2 linked regions of the Homo sapiens genome follow. The protein of the gene in region 2 interacts with the protein of the main gene of each other region in a biochemical or structural test. Each region holds a gene or a part of one and is shown on either strand. Other genes may lie near its edges. The genes, in order: GULP1 and MEGF10.

Region 1 (3,932 bases), on a different chromosome or scaffold from region 2:
GCCAAGCCCAGGGCCCTGCTGCTCTGTGCAACCTCAGGACTTGATGTCCTGCATCCCAGCCACTCCAGCTCTAGCCATGGCTAAAAGGGGCCAAGATACAGCTCAAGCCATTGCTTCATGGGGTAAAAGCCCTAAGCCTTGGTGGCTTCCCTGTGGTGTTGGGCCTGCAGGTGCACAGAAGACAAGAGTTGAGCTTTGGGAGCCTCTGCCTAGATTTCGGAGGATGTATGGAAACGCCTGAATGTTCAGGCAGAAGTCTGTGGCAGGAGCAGAGCCCTCATGGAGAACCTCTACTAGGGCAATGCAGAGGAGAAATGTAGGGTTAAAGCCCCCACACAGAGTCCCCACTGGGGCACTGCCTAGTGGAGCTGTGAGAAGAGGGCCACTGTCTTTCAGACCCCCGAATGGTAGATCCACCAACAGCTTGCACTGTGTGCCTGTCACTCAATGCCAGCCTGTGAAAACAGCTATGGGGGCTGTACCCTGCAGAGCCACAGAGGTGGAGCTGCCCAAGGCCTTGGGGTCCATCCCTTGCATTAGCATGCCCTGGATGTGACACATGGAGTAAAATGAGATAATTTTGGAGCTTTAAGATTTAATGACTGCCCCACCGGGTTTCAAACTTGCAAGGGGCCTGTGGCTCCTTCGCTTTGCCAATTTCTCCAATTTGGAATGGAAACGTTCACCCAATGCCTGTATGCTCATTGTATTTTACAAGTAACTAACTTGCTTTTTATTTTACAGGCTTATAGGTGTTTTCTAATTCATCAAAAAGAGACTTTAATATTCCTTCCAGATATATAAAAGATAAAACAGAAAAGCAATGAATTTATAGCATTTTAGATAGGAAAGAACCCTTACAAAAGGTTAAGAAATCATGATATAATTTATATATTTTTTAACAAAAAAGTCCATAAACCCTATGATAACAAAAATATTTTAACCAGCTCTATTAAACATGTAAAAAATGATCAATTTAATTACCACCAGTTATTTTTAAAAGTTAAAGTAAAATATTAAAAATATAACCCAAAACAGTGATATATAATTAAATATGAAGTAATACACCAAAACATAATTGTTCACACAATAGGTAAAAGTTGCAAGCAGAGATGTCATTAGTAGTGTAGTCTGAATTATAAAGTAAAATAGAATTAATGGAAATTTATACAAATATAAAAATAATACTTTAATAATTAAAATTGTAAGTAAGGTTGTTAAGATATGTAATTTCCCACAAAGTCTTAATTATATATTTAAAATGTATGCAACTATAACAAGAAACTTTGATTTGTTGAGAAAGCTTACTAATCTCAGTAGATCTACTAGGTACTGGAGGTGGCTGTGTGCCATTGCGAGTAGGCATCGAAGACTGGTGTGATATTGGAGAAAATGGAATCATATCAAAGATGTCAGTGGAGGGCGACTTAGGTGTCATACTGCCTGCCTGCAATGAAAATAAATGAATTAGGGTAATATTTCATATAGACACATTGTAATGCTAAATATTTCATATGCATATAAAATATATGTAAACAACAATTTCAGTTGCATCATAAGAATTTGCCATTTTGTAGACCAAAAATAGTTAAGTATTCGCAATTTCATATGGTTCCACTAATTATGATAAATGCTCATTTAGAAGAAAGCAATAGAAAATTTCTGTAAAAATGCTCTCAAAGATGATGGCAAAAACGGTGACAATATTATTCCAGATGAATATAAAAGATACAGTGAATTTTTGGGATATATAGAAATGACTGCTACTTGTAACAGAGAATTAGATATATTAGAAACTATTCATGTAAAAATATGATTTCAGTAAGATACGCTGCATAAGATTACATTTTAAACTGGAATAATTAGACATAAGTGACCTGCCTTCTTAAATATAAACATTCAAATGCAATTGATTTTTTTTGCATTCTCAAAAGTAGAGTATATTTTAGTTTGTATTTATATCAACAATGGGAACCAACTGATATTCATTGCAGTACATTTTACTCCTGAAAGATTTCATCAAGTTTTCTGTAATAAATAGCAATCTTATAAACTAAATTAATAATCGCCAGTGTACTGCCCAAATCATTGAGTTTTCTGATACAGTCTGGGCCAGGACTGAACACATATAGGGAAAGATAAATGAAAATCTCATGAAAATGTAGCCAAGAAGTAATATCAAAATTAGACATTTATCACTTTGTAAAACAGGGAACAATATGTATATATGTATAATCTCCTTTGAAAACCATCTGATTTGATCAGGGATAAAAGAGAATTTCCATTTTGGGGGAATAGTGGCGAAAAATTTGCTTTTCCTGTGAGAACTTGGACAGAGATTGCTTCCAGTAGTTCATATTAAAATTAGAATTCTCAGAATACGTTTAATTTTCTGATTCACAGGTAGTGCAGGTGATGAAAAAATCAGGCTTATTGTGTGTAGAGAATGATGGGTTTGCTATTCAGCTAAAATAATTGCTAGTACATTATTTTTCATGCAGGAAAATTGCTGTCATCCCCCTTTCTTTAACAATTTGTTTATTGTATCCCCTCACCCCTTTACTGTTACTCAGCAATACCATTCCCCTAATTATCCCATTCCTGTATCCCCTCTCACTTCTATATCTCTACTCTTTTTCACGATACAAAAATTCTAAAATCTTGGCTGTCATTAAAAGCAAAACAAATCAATCAAAAATTTATTTACTCTGTCCCTCTTTAATCTTCCAGCCTCTATTCTGTTTTTCTTTTTCCTTCAAGGCTAAGCTCCTTGAAAGAGATACTACACTTTCTGTCCTAAGATTTACTTCATTCTATCTTTAACTCTTATCAATCTAGATTTGTTCTTTTTGCACTGAACTCTGCTGAAATTGCTCTTACCAATGATCTAATTTCCCAACTGCAACATCTGATAGATCCTTTGAAGTATCTGTATGTAAATTTCTACACTGTCACCACCCTCTACTTGAAACTTTCTGGTATCAGGTAATCAAAGAAAACAACAATGGCACACAAAGGCTCCAGATCACATCACATTGACTCAAGATACATCTAAATTTTTGATAACTTTACAAATAGCACATTTTGGCAGAATTTAAGCAAAATAAGTGGGATAATAAAAAAGAATTATCTGCTTAGCAAATTACATGAGGTCTTGGGATGCTGCTCTCACTGACTGGCTTGGGAAAGCCACATTTAGAAGGTGGTGGTATTAACAGTCCCAGTGATAGTCTGGAATCAGGCGAGTTGATAGGAGTGACAGAGATGGAAGAAATATTGAGACAGGGAGATGAATCACCATTACTACGCCAGAAAGAGGATGAGCATCTCTGAAACACATGTTGTTCATGATCAGACATATTGTGCAGCAGCTGTAAAGGAATGACAGAAAAAGAAATATCCTAAGAGGGCAGGCATGGAGGAAAGGAGAAAGTATACTTGAAATTTATTTGTAAAATGGTGTTTTGTTAAGATGATAAGATCATTTCACAGTAACTTTTCTAAAATTAAAACATAGAGTTAGAGTTGATTTTCCTATGTGATAGTCCTTAGATTCTGGATTGCTTAATTTGATCTTTTTTTTACTGAAATATTACATTTTTTGGTATTTTAAATAGAATATTGCATTCATCGGGACCTAAGAGGAAGGTAATGGAGAGAAACATGAAGAAAGCCTGAAGATTTATTTTGGAGAGGGCTTCTGTAATGAAATGGAAAAAGGAAGGATAGTAATGAGAGAACAGTTACAGAACTAGGAGTAAACTCTTGTACATAAAGTTATGGTTGTGTAGAATTTTCAAAAGGGATTACAACATACATTTTATATTTAATCCTCAAAACATTATTTGAAGTATCAGTAGTAGTGATATTATGTCCTTATTACAATAAATACATGGGAATTAAGGTCCACAGATTCTTTGTGACTTGTATGA
Region 2 (3,932 bases):
AGATCCTCTTCCAGGACCTTGGGATATTGGATGGGGTTTTTCTTCCTTTCAGTTCTCACTGGGTGTTTTTTTTCTTCCTTTATTACAGGTGCTTTTGGACTTGACAGAAGCTATATGGGAAAATCCTTAAAAGGTATCATGTAAATTTGAAGAAGAAATCAGAAGCACAATTAAATTTTTTTTAACCTCAAAGACTGAAATAGTTTTTAAACAAGCTAGAATGGCAAGAGAAAATGTAGAATTTTTAGTGTGGTCAGTTACTACAGCAAACACACAAACATGTGTGACTGACATCAAGAAAGTGACCAGAGGTGGTCCTTGGTAGAGCTTAAGTCTTTGGGGAACAAAAGATTCAGTTTGCTGAGGAAACACTCATATTTCATTTAAAAGAAATATGGCTTATGGGGAGACGGAAACATATAAAGGGAAATAGCCGGGACAATAAGAAAAGATCCACATGGTTACATGTTGACCAAGTTCTGCTGTTCAGGATGGGTGTGCATGATTAGATGCCTAGTACAGAGCTTTTACTAGGAGTCCTCCCAGCACAAATGCCTTCTTGTCATGATAATAGAGCCCTCTTGGTGCTCCTGGGGCCATCAACAGCTGGTTTCTTGATTGAACTTCTGTAAATTTTCTATTAATAAAACAAAACGTAATTGATTATATTCTAATGTGATCATAAAAATGAAATCAGTTAATGATATTGATGTCAGTACTCATCTTGGAGAGGAGCTAAAACTACTTTAGGGATGGGTCATTTTATAGCAGATTCTCTCCAAAACAAGTGGAAAAGGTACAGTATTATTTTCAGTGTGTAGAATTATGGAAACCTAGCTATAAAGAAAAACAGTAAAATATCACCAAGAAATGATGTTGCCAGTGACACAGCATTAGCTTTCTCTTCTCATTTCTCTTCACAGACCTGGGAAAGAATTCTGAATATAATTCAAGTAACTGCTCCCTAAGCAGTTCTGAGAACCCATATGCCACTATTAAAGACCCACCTGTACTTATCCCGAAAAGCTCAGAGTGTGGTTATGTGGAGATGAAATCGCCGGCACGAAGAGATTCCCCATATGCAGAGATCAATAACTCAACTTCAGCCAACAGGAATGTCTATGAAGTTGGTGAGTTCCCTTAACCATAGAAAGAACCGAGTGCTTAAGTTTTTAAAAACAATTTTAAAGTCTTTACGAATATAATAGTTGCAGGTCATAGAAATCTTATTGAAAATAATGGTCCGTATTTTATTTTATTTTATTTTATTTTATGTATTTTTTGAGATGGGGTCTCTCTGTCACCCAGGTGGTGTGCAGTGGCACAGTCTTGGCTCACTGCAACCTCTACCTCCCGGGCTCAAGCCATCCTCCCACTTCAGCCTCCCAAGTAGCTGGGACCACAGGCACGCACTACCACGCCCAGCTAATTTTTTGTATTTTGGGTAGAGACGGGGTTTTGTCACCATATTTTATTAATAGATGCGACCTGTGTTTTTAGCGATCATATTAATTGGTGCCAAAGGAATTTTCCAGGGAAAATATTATTTAGAAAAATTTAAGGTAAAGTTTCTTTATTTTTCACCTAATCATCCATCTTTTGTTTTGTAACCATAGTGAATATTTTGGCACACATGTGGATAGCATATGTATCATATTAGCTAATATATCTACTTAGCCGAAACAAATGGTTCAAGTGGATTAAACAGGTGATTCCATTTCCTGGTTCATTATATTAATATAATGCATTTAGCAAGATTGAAACATTTTACTTTTAAACTTGTCCAAAAGAGCAGTAATATTCTCTGATGTGAATGTGATGCAAATTAATATGAATTCAATTTAAAATTGGAGTTATTTTGATTGTCTTTTGCAGATACCACTTGGGAAATGATAAAACATTCCACCACTACTCTTGGCTAAACAATAGGGCTATATATTTTCATTTCTCTCTCTCTCTCTGTCTCTATTTCTATGTCTCTCTGAGTATTTATGATTTTAACTTTAAAATATTCTCTACTACTTGTAAATGAAGTGCCTACTTTACTACTAGTAATTTATTTTATGCCAGATACATCCCTGGGAAAAAATATACAAAATAATTTATTTTTAAAGTATTAAGACAGCTTTTTAAAATGCAAGTCAAAGTGAACTAAATTTATTTTTGGAAAGTCAGTAACAATTCTCCTTTAAACTGTCCCACAAACCTGCCACAGTAGGATGGGAACTCAAATGAGAGCCTGAGTCTTGAGTCCTAAAGTTCTGAACATGTTGAGTGTTTTCATGAACTGAATTAACGTTTGAGAATGTCAGTCTTCTCACCTGTGGAATAAGGGGCTTGGCCTACCTTATCCCCAAGGTGTTTTTCAGACCATGATTTATTTCCAGGATTCTGTATATTCCCTTAATATCTTCATCCCGATTATGTGGTCCTCCTTTTGTTCTGAACACCATTTGTGTTTGCCAGTTGATCCAACTACACAGAGTTGCCACCTGTATGTGATGATTTTTAAAATCATGTTTTTAAAACCAGCATTTCCTTATATTTTTTTAAAAGTCCCTTTGGTGTGTTTGACATTTGCAAGAAATGCCATATTCTTTTTAAAAACATTTCCTTTGCTGATAAATTAATATGTCCTTGGTTATCACAGAACCTACAGTGAGTGTTGTCCAAGGAGTATTCAGCAATAATGGGCGTCTCTCCCAGGATCCATATGACCTCCCAAAGAACAGTCACATCCCTTGTCATTATGACCTGCTGCCAGTCCGAGACAGTTCATCCTCCCCTAAGCAAGAGGACAGTGGTGGTAGCAGCAGCAACAGCAGCAGCAGCAGTGAATGACACCAAAGGACCGCTTGGTAGCCACTGGAACCCTTTCCAGAACTGCTGTTTGGTTCTTCTCCATCCTCAATTTTGCCACTTTCATGTGAATGTTAGTCAATTCGGTGGGCAATTTTTGGACATGAACCAGAAAGCTGAAAGCTGAGGCTGACACGGACTGTAGGTGCTTTTTGTTCAGGTGGATTCGAAGGAGTTAGAGATGTGATTTCCCATTGCTGTTAGTTTTAGAACTATACCCGTGAAGCATGACTTATTGTAAGATGTTGGCTGAAAGCATGAACTTGCAGAACTCCCTCGGAGACGCAGGTTGCAGTGGACATTGGGATTGTTGCTTGAAAAATTAAAATTTGAATATTTTCTCTCTCATTTGCATCATACAGCTCTACCTAGGATTGTACAGTTTACCATAAAATTTACTTCATGAAAGTGGGAATCACTGAACATGTAGAAGACAAGGAACATATTGTTAACTCCTGATTCTTAACTTTATTCAACTGGACTCAGAATTGTAGGGATAATATGAATGCAGGAGGAAACATTCTGTCAGGCGGTATGACTGGACAGACTTTGAATATACTCTAAAAGTGGACAGAAAATTTACGAAAATCTTAGATTTTGTTTAGAATGAGAAAATATACAATTAGAATTATTTTAGAAATAGTAGGAAGTATTGCAGAAGTCAATACACAAATGTGCCAGGCAGAGGTGGTTTTCTCTGTTTGACTCTCAACCAACTTCAGATCTATGACATTATTCTGATCACTGGCTCCATCATACATATTCACCACTTGAGATTCATAACATATCAATAGTTATTTCATAAATATAGAAATGAAATAATTTTATTTTTGACAGACTGGATGGAATGAGTGTGTAATGATTGATAAAGGTTGTAAATTTTAAATGCAAGATGACGCTTACGTTCTGTAAACCATTAGTAATACATGCTGTAATATAGAATTAGTGGAACATTTTGATTAATCTTTCCCTAGAAGTGACTGAAATATTTTTGTGCATATTTGAGAAAGGGAACTTTCCTTTTATTAATTGTCAATTTAGAGAAACTATGCTTAAGCTGGTCTTTTGCATTG

The links.
Region 1: the proteins of MEGF10 (region 2) and GULP1 form a complex in vitro, tested with the Homo sapiens proteins (one study listed by BioGRID).

Annotation. Positions count from the first base shown.
Region 1 is NC_000002.12:188,581,780-188,585,711, reverse strand, and holds part of GULP1 (PTB domain-containing engulfment adapter protein 1), read right to left. Parts: intron 3,372-3,932; coding exon of another isoform or gene 3,147-3,371; intron 1,448-3,146; coding exon 1,309-1,447; intron 1-1,308. UniProt on the Homo sapiens protein: May function as an adapter protein. Required for efficient phagocytosis of apoptotic cells. Modulates cellular glycosphingolipid and cholesterol transport. May play a role in the internalization and endosomal trafficking of various LRP1 ligands, such as PSAP.
Region 2 is NC_000005.10:127,454,478-127,458,409, forward strand, and holds part of MEGF10 (multiple epidermal growth factor-like domains protein 10 isoform a precursor), read left to right. Parts: intron 1-88; coding exon 89-133; intron 134-923; coding exon 924-1,130; intron 1,131-2,650; coding exon 2,651-2,841; 3' UTR 2,842-3,932. UniProt on the Homo sapiens protein: Membrane receptor involved in phagocytosis by macrophages and astrocytes of apoptotic cells. Receptor for C1q, an eat-me signal, that binds phosphatidylserine expressed on the surface of apoptotic cells. Cooperates with ABCA1 within the process of engulfment.